Linked DNA regions of Homo sapiens. The protein of the gene in region 2 purifies or fractionates together with the protein of the main gene of each other region. This does not show direct contact. Each region holds a gene or a part of one and is shown on either strand. Other genes may lie near its edges.

The links. The genes of interacting proteins can lie anywhere in the genome.
Region 1: the proteins of SLC25A3 (region 2) and TMEM177 fractionate together in Homo sapiens (co-fractionation; one large-scale study listed by BioGRID). This does not show direct contact.

What each region holds. Positions count from the first base shown.
Region 1 is NC_000002.12:119,677,708-119,682,000, reverse strand, and holds the start of TMEM177 (transmembrane protein 177), read right to left. Parts: upstream 2,801-4,293; 5' UTR 2,725-2,800; exon of another isoform or gene 2,384-2,724; intron 1,170-2,383; 5' UTR 1,148-1,169; coding exon 212-1,147; 3' UTR 1-211. UniProt on the Homo sapiens protein: Plays a role in the early steps of cytochrome c oxidase subunit II (MT-CO2/COX2) maturation and is required for the stabilization of COX20 and the newly synthesized MT-CO2/COX2 protein.
Region 2 is NC_000012.12:98,596,123-98,600,586, reverse strand, and holds part of SLC25A3 (solute carrier family 25 member 3 isoform b precursor), read right to left. Parts: intron 2,732-4,464; coding exon 2,552-2,731; intron 2,066-2,551; coding exon 1,884-2,065; intron 953-1,883; exon of another isoform or gene 703-952; intron 633-702; coding exon 460-632; intron 1-459. UniProt on the Homo sapiens protein: Inorganic ion transporter that transports phosphate or copper ions across the mitochondrial inner membrane into the matrix compartment. Mediates proton-coupled symport of phosphate ions necessary for mitochondrial oxidative phosphorylation of ADP to ATP.

The DNA of each region.
Region 1 (4,293 bases), on a different chromosome or scaffold from region 2:
GAAACAAAGGCTCAGATTCATAGCCCCTGAATAGTCCCTCATAGTCCCTGAGTTCATAAGTAGTGGTTATAGTACAATCTAAGCTATTTAATTCCAAAGCCAGTGATTTTTCTGGCCGTGAGCTATAGGTCCAAAGGCTCCAACAGGGCCCTCCAGACTCAATGGCAGGGTGGTGTCTGCACAAGCTGGAAGTGTCCTTGTGATGAGCCCATCAGGAGCGGCCCGGATTGAGCATCCCCCTCCACATCTGCAGCACAGAGTCCCGGCGGGTGGTGTAGGGTAAATGTTTGATTCGGAACAAGTGTCTGGGGACGATGTTCCCGCTGGGTGTATACAGCTTCTCCCCGTCTTTGCCCAAGAGACTGCGCAGGGCCAGGTTGCCCGACAGAAGCTTCTCATAGAACTCCACTCCACCACAGGCATAGGCTGCAGAGAGGGAGGCCGTGCGGCGGTCCAGCCAGGACTCCACGGCATGAGTGAGAGAATCCTGGGAGAAGGCGTAGGCCACAAAGCCTGCCACTGCTGCCACCAAGCTGAAGGCAGCCCGTAAATTCATGGGGCCTGCATGGAGCCCCAGGGTGTACTTGGCACCCACGCCCAGTGCCCAGGTCCCTGCCAGGCAAGCTGGGGCCAGCAGGGCGTGCACGGCAGTGGTACTGCTTTCCAGGTACACCACTTCCCTGGCCAAGGCGAACTTCTGGGCTTCACGGGACAAGGTCAGGGAAGCTCTCAGCCGGGCGCCTGCTGGGCTCCGCCAGTCCACTGTATGCCCATGTATGACCACGGGATGGTTAGTGTTGATCACTAGGTCTCCCAAGAAACTGGCAGGGATGCCCACCACAGCCCCAGCAGGGAGTCTTGGGAAGCCTGCACTCACAGGTTGGAAGGTGAAGGTGGTGAAGGGCTTGTAGCAATGGCCTGAAGGAACACCTATGTCCTGTAGCACCTCTTGGAAGAGGCTCTGCAGCTGTGGAGGGAGCGGAGCTGGCTGGCCCTGAGGCCAGTACTGGTAGAGCCATTGGACCACGGGATCCGGGAAGAGGTGGTACGAGATTGGAACTCCAAACAGGCCTGCACAGGAACCCACCAAGAGGCCTGTCCTGTGTCTCTGCACAAATGCTGCGGTCCGCCACAGGGGACCTGCCATGAGTGTAGTCACTGCGGACAATCTGGGCCAAGAAAAAGAGAAGTCAGCCAGTTTCCCTGGGTCAGCCTGCAGACTGAACATCCTCCAGGGTCCACACCACCTTTTTAAACCAAAGTAACACAGCATAGTGGTGAAGAGTGTGGGCTCTAGAGCCAGAGTGCCTGTGTTCAAATCCCAGCTCCGTCTCTGTGCGTCAATTTCCCCATGTGCCAAACAGGTGTGTCGTAATGGCCCACCTCTAGGGTGGCGGTGATGAGCACATGAATAAACATACATAAAACATTTAGTGTCTGGCACAGCAGCAGATATTCCTTATAATAATGGCTGTAATGACTTTTATTCCCATCGCTGGGCACGGCACTCCAACTGCCTCATTCCACTCATCCCATGGTAAAGCCCTATGATTACTAATTTATAAGGAAAAACGTGTTCAATTTATTGAGTGCTTACTATATGCTAGACTCAGTTCTGAGCACTCTTACCGATTGAACCCTCACAACCCCATGACCTAATTACTACAGCTAACCCTATTTCAAAGCTGTGAAAACTTAAATGGCCAAAATCCTAAGCTAGTGAAGTGACAGTGTTATGGGCTGCACTGTGTCTCCTCCTCCTCCCCAGTTCATATATTTAAGTCCTAACCCCCAGTACCTCAGACTGTGGCTGTATTTGGAGACAGGGTCTTTAAGGAGATAATTAAGATAAAATGAGGCCATCAGTATGGATCCTAATCCAATTTGACTGGTGTACTTATAAGAAGAGATTAGGATGCAAACAGGCACAGCAGGAAGATCATGTGAGGATCCAGGGAAAAGGCTACCACCTACAAGCCAAGAAGGGAGGTCTCAGAAGACACCAACCCTGTTAACACCCTGGTCTTGAACTTCCAGCCTCCATAACTCCCAGAGGACAAATTTCTGCTGGTTGGGCCACCCAGTCTCCGGTACTTCGGCATGGCAGCTCTAGCAAGCTAACACAGGCATAGTCAGGTGTCCACAGCAAACTTTTTGTTTTAGAAAACTTGTTATGCCAAATTACAAGCATATACCAAAGTAGACAAAATAGTACATCCATCAACTTCAATCCCATCAACTCATGGCCAATCTTGTTTGATTTCTCTTTCCACCACACTTCCGTCCAACTGGTTTATTTTGAAACATCCCCGGGCATCCTATCACTTCATCCGTGAATACGTCAGTAAAAATTCACAATTATTTCACTTTGATTGAAACTTACTGTATTCCTGTCCGTGAAAAGTGCTTAATGAGCAACGAATGAGTTGCCGCAAACAAAAACGCAGGGTACCGCTTGGCCTATCTTAATCAAGAACTCCTATAAGAATCATTATCATTCGGGCTTTTTTTTTTTCCCAATGCGGAAAGTGAGGCTAAGAAAGGAAAGGTCTGGACCAAAGTCCAACGTCCCTAGGGCCATCGCGCTGCGGGGTGGGCCTAGAACACAGTACCATGCAGCCCGCCGGTGGCTGGGGGAGGAGGGGCTGCAGGAGCCCCGCAGAGGGGTCCTCGCTACGCTTCCACTCTGGGCCCCTAGGCTACTCCGCAGTCTGAACGCGTTACCGGGTCGCATCAGGCCGGAGAAGGGTCCCTCCCGCTCGTCCGTGCGCTCACCTCCGCCGCCGCTCGGAACGCCTACATGTGCGCGCGGCAGGGCGGCCGCAAAGCACGCCGGCCGGGGATCTGGGGGCGGGGACTTCGGGAGGCGGAGCTCGCCGGCCCCGGATCTTGGGATGGGGACTTCAGGGGGCGGAGCTCGCCGGCCGGAGATCTCGGGGCGAGGATTTCAGGGAGGGGAGCTCGCTCGACGGGTCTGGGGGCGGGACTCTTGGGGGTGTGGCTGGGGGGGCCTCAAGGGGATGTCCGTGGGGGGCTCCGGCCGCCGCAGAGGCTCCTTCTCTAACTGTGCACCTTGGGGTGGGTCCGCTAGCACTTCCTCCTCTGCGTTGAAATGCGTCTTTGATTAATACAAAAATTAGCTGGGCGTGGTGGCGCACGCCTGTAGTCCCCAGCTGCTGGGGAGGCTGAGGCAGGAGAATCGCTTGAACCTGGGAGGCAGAGGTTGCAGTGAGCCGAGAATACGCCACTGCACTCCAACCTGGGCGACAGAGCGAGACTCCGTCACACACACACACACACACACACACCCCGGTGTCTTTGATCATGCCACACACACACACACACACACCCCGGTGTCTTTGATCATGCCACACACACACACACACACACACATACCCTGGTGTCTTTGATCATGACACACACACACACACACACCCACCCCGGTGTCTTTGATCATCACACACACACACACACACACACACACACATCCCGGTGTCTTTGATCATGCCGTTGAACCCCCGAAGGAACGGCAGCCCCGCGTGGGTCACCAGGCGGCCTATGGCAGGGCCCCCATCAGAACCCATGCCCATCTGACTGGCCGGCCCGTGTACTTCTCCGTCTGGAAGCGCTCACCCTTGGCGGGGAGCTCTGAGCTTTATGTTTATTACCATGTTCGCTGCCCCCCAAGCTCCTCCCAGGTGCTTCACACTGTACAGTCCACAGAGCAGCGTGCCATCTGTCATTTCTCCTTTCCAGCTGCTCTGTGAGGTAGATGAGGGATCATCTAATCTGTGCACCAAATCCAGCTCTCCACCTGCTTTTGTAAATAAAGTTTTCTTGGAACACAGCCATGCCCAATCCTTTACAGAGGGTGAAAACAGACTGCCTAGGGTTAAAGCCGGGCTCCACCCCTTACTAGCTGTGTGATAAAATGAGTTGGTGTATATGTAACCTGTGCCTCACGGTTTGTGCCGCCTAGCCATTAGCTATTATTATTAAAGTCTGTTCTGTTTCTGAGCCCCCCCCCCCAATTTTGGCTGCTCAGTTGTTTGTATGTAAATAGTGCAATGTGACCTCAGCCAAAGCCAGAATGTGGGACATTCTACAGGGCAAATGACGTGGTTTATCCAACAAATCAATGGCATAAACAGGGAAGGAGGGGGACTCAAAAGAAAAGAGACTTGAGAGTCATTGCAGTTAAATGCAATATGTGACTTTTATTGGGATCCTGAACCAAATAAACTAACTGTAAAAAAGACACCTTGGGCTGGGCGCGGTGGCTTACGCCTGTAA
Region 2 (4,464 bases):
CTAAAAATTAGCCGGGCGTAGTGGCAGACGCCTGCAATCCCAGCTACTCAGGAGGCTGAGACAGGAGAATCGCTTGAACCCAGGAGGCGGAGGCTGCAGTGAGCCAAGATTGCACCACTGCACTCCAGCCTGGGCAACAAGGGTAAAACTCCATCTCAAAAAAAAACAAAAAACAAAAACAAAAATCAGCCGGGCATGGCGGTGCATGCCCGTCCCAGCTACTTGGGAGGCTGCGGCAGAAGAATCACTTGAACCCAGGAGGAGGAGGTTGCAGTGAGCTATTATCATGCCACTGCACTCCAGCCTGGGCAACAGAGCGAGACTATGCCTCAGGGAAACCAAAAAAACAAAAACACTGCTTTATAACCTTTGGAGTATTTTTCCCTCTCAAAAAACGCCAATAATGGAAATGATTATTTGTTCATAATTTCAGACAAGTGTGTTCTAAGTAATTCGTACCTATGTAACCTGCTACAAATGTTACAACCAGCTGCTCTGGCTTTGAACATTCACTGCGGGGCTTAGGAACCACAAACTTGTACAGTGCTTCAACAGTACGTTCAAAGCAGGCGAACTTCATCATGGTGTATGGTATCTGTCTCATCCAGAGAGGAGCAACCCCCTTGTAGAATCTAGGAAATCAAGAGACTTGTTTTACACAGTTGCATACACTCATCTATCAGAGACTGTCATTATTAACAGAAATGTCCGCACACGAGTCGAGTCCTGATAGTAACAAATGGCAGCATAAATGCATGTCATTTCTATCAGAACGTTAGACTAACATGCAGGTATATTTCTCTTACATGCCAATGACTCAAGCACCTTTGACTATACAACCAAAAAAGTTGCTGGATGTTTCTTTGACTACTGGAACCACAAGAAACAAGAAGTTTACAAGTGGAACTCAGTTCAAGATTCATCCACAAAGGTGGATCTAAGGAAGCATGTTGTGGTCATGGAAATTCTTAACTGTGAATAGATCACAAGGATACTAACAAGCCCTCCCTAAAAGTTAATAGTAAATGTTTAGGCCAAACATCAAGTCATTTGTAGACCGACAAATGGTCCTTACTCTAGGGAAAAAAAAAAAACTCAGTCCAGGGCTCAAACCATGTATTAACTTATCTTTACCTCTCAAGTTTATGTTCTACATACAGGTAAATAGACATTAAATGTTATAATAGTCTTTTTAAAAAGTCTGGTAGGCTTAATACTAAAAAATGAAGTTCACAGCCAGACGCGGTGTCTCACGCCTGTAATCCCAGCACTTTGGGAGGCCGAGGCGGGTGGATCACCTGAGGTCAGGAGTTCGAGACCAGCCTGACCAACATGGAGTCTCTACTAAAAATACAAAATTAGCCAGGCGTGGTGGTGCATGCCTGTAATCCCAGCTATTCAGCAGGCTGAGGCAGGACAATCACTTGAACCTGGGAGGCGGAGGTTGCAGTGAGCTGAGATAGTGCCATTGCACTCCAGCCTGGACAACAAGAGCAAAACTCCGTCTCAAAGAAAAAAAAAAAAGAAGCCGGGTGCGGTGGCTCACACCTGTAATCCCAGCATTTTGGGAGGCCAAGGTGGGCGGATCATGAGGTCAGGAGATGGAGACGGTGAAACTCCGTCTATACTGAAAAATACAAAAAATTAGCTGGGCGCAGTGGCAGGCGCCTGTAGTCCCAGCTACTTGGGAGGCTGAGGCAGGAGAATGGCGTGAACCCGGGAGGCGGAGCTTGCAGTGAGCCGAGATCACGCCACTGCACTCCAGCCTGGGTGACAGAGCGAGACTTTGTCTCAAAAAAACAAAACAAAAAAAAAAACAAAAAAAAATGAAGTTCACTTAAAATAAGTACTTTCATAGTATAAATTTTTAAGTGTTTACTTACGCTTTTAGGCCTTCTTCCTTATACATTTTGGGAGCTGCATCCCTCAAAGTGTTGGCATAACCTGGCTGGGTTTGAATTCGAACCTTAGCAGCTTCCATAGGAGCCAGGGCAATGTCAGCAAAGAATTCAGCACTGGCAGAGGCAGCCAAATATAGTGATGTGCGCCAGAGATAAGTATTCTCCTAAAATCCAAAACACAAGGAAGGGATGTGAATTGCTGTTGTGTTGGTTTTCAATTGAAGTGACAGTTCTAGAAAACAACTAAGCTTCAGACATTTTATAAAGTAACACACGATGATATGGAATATATATGTGGTCTCATAACCTCATTAACAAAACACGTAACTATGTGAACAACATGAATATTCAAAAAATATCTAGATGCCATGCCCCGGAACTACGCAAAGGAGTCCCAGAGCCCTTCTCTAAAAAACTCAAAATCCAACTTACTTAGAAAACAAGATAGTATATTAAAAGGAGAATTGTAATTTAATGAAATACATTTATCAACCTGTCTCTGCTGACACAGGCATACGATTTAAAACAAGTTGCTCACTTTGTAGGACCATTTTCTTCAGTGCTAAAATAAGGCAAGACAGACAAAAATCTAAGAACACTCGGAAAGTCTTAAACACTCGGAACATTCAATTTTAAAGTTAATTACATACCTCTCCAAGCATATTGCTATACAAGACTTTAAAGACTTCATAAAAGCCAAACTTGCAGAGTCCCTGCATGGAGTAGCCAAGGAAAGTCGGAGCCCATCCTTTAGCCAAACCACGAACACCATCCTCTTTAAGTGTAACTGAGAATCCGTTAAATATGCCCTTGTACTTTTGGGGGTCCACCTTTATTTAAAACAAGAAAAAAAAAATTAAATGCACCAAACAGCTAACATAAAAATTTAATCTCATGATTATTTTTGTTTGGGTTCCATAATAAATTTCAGCAACTACACAAAAGGTAACTACAGTAATTCCTGCCAGGCACGGTGGCTCACATCTGTAATCCCAGCACTTTGGGAGGCTGAGGCAGGTGGATTACCTGAGCTCAGGAGTTCAAGACCAGCCTGGGCAACACAGTGAAACCCCATCTCTACTAAAATACAAAAAATTGGACGGGCATGGTGGCGTGCACCTGTAATCCCAGCTACTCGGGAGGGTGAGGGTGAGACAGAACAATCGCTTGAGCCTGAGGGAGGGAGGTGGAGGTTGCAGTGAGCCACGATGGCACCACTACACTCCAGCCTGGGCAGCAGAGCAAGACTCCATCTCAAAAAAAAAAAAAGAAATACAGTAGCTCTCCCTTATCCAAGAGTTCATTTTCTGTGGCTTCAGTTATCCAAGGTCAACTGACATCTGAAAATATTAAGATATTTTGAGTGAGGAACTACATTCATATAACTTTTATTAGTTTATGCTTATCACTGTTTATTATTGTTCATTTGATTACTTTTATAAATAGAAACTGTTGTACATTAAGGTCTAGCTTTCTGTGTCAAACCTAAGTCTTGGAGTGATAGTTAAGAGGGTAAAATTTCAACAAAAGCTTTCTGTGTCAAACTTAAGTCTTGGAGTGATAGTTAAGAGGGTAAAATTTCAACAAAAATACGTAACAAAACTGATTCTTAACAGATTTCTTACCACCCAACTCCTACTACTTTTTTTGTGTTTTTTGTTTGTTTGTTTTTTGAGTCTTGCTCTGTAGCCCAGGATGGAGTGCCATGGTGTGATCTCAGCTCACTGCAACCTCCACCTCCCAGGTTCAAGCGATTCTCCTGCCTCAGCCTCCCGAGTAGCTGCGACTACAGGCACGCCACCATGCCCAGCTAATTTTTGTATTTTTAGCAGAGATGAGGTTTCACCATGTTGGCTAGATTGAGTTCTGATCTCGAACTCCTGACCTCAAGTGACCCACCTGCTTCGGCTACCCAAAATGCTGGCATTCCAGGTGTGGGCGACCATGCTTGGCCCACCTCCTACTTTTTAAAAGCTACTGTCTAGATAATAGATATAACTGTATTCCTAACATATGCTAGTTCTTTAAGTAGCTTATAGCATAAAGTTTTGTGAACACTAAACAAACTAAACACAAGTTAAAAAAAAAAAGCACATAAACTAAATTCACTTCAAGAGACATGCATAACACGTTTTAGCAAAGGTACATTTCATATCCATTACATTAACTAATGGGGGGGGAGGAAAAGCTTATCTATTTCTGCCAGTACTAGAAGGGATGGTATACATCACCTTCCTCTCCCTCCTAATATTTCAAATTCATTTCTCTTTTAGGTAAGTAGACTTCTAATCCAGTTTGGAACAAATAAATTTTCGATGTCTTGTTTTTGTTTCAATGATCTTAATTAAAATATATTCAAATTATTTTAAAATGTTGTGTAAATAAACAAGAGGCTAATCTGACAAAATTTTCATACTAAGATATTAAGAGCACTTTAAATAAATCTACATGTACTCTTTGCCTTGGTCTTATTAGTAGATAAAGGACATTGTTACTTCACATAATACACAGACTTGTTTACCCACTCCAACACATAGGTGCTTGTTAAATGACTATTTGGGGC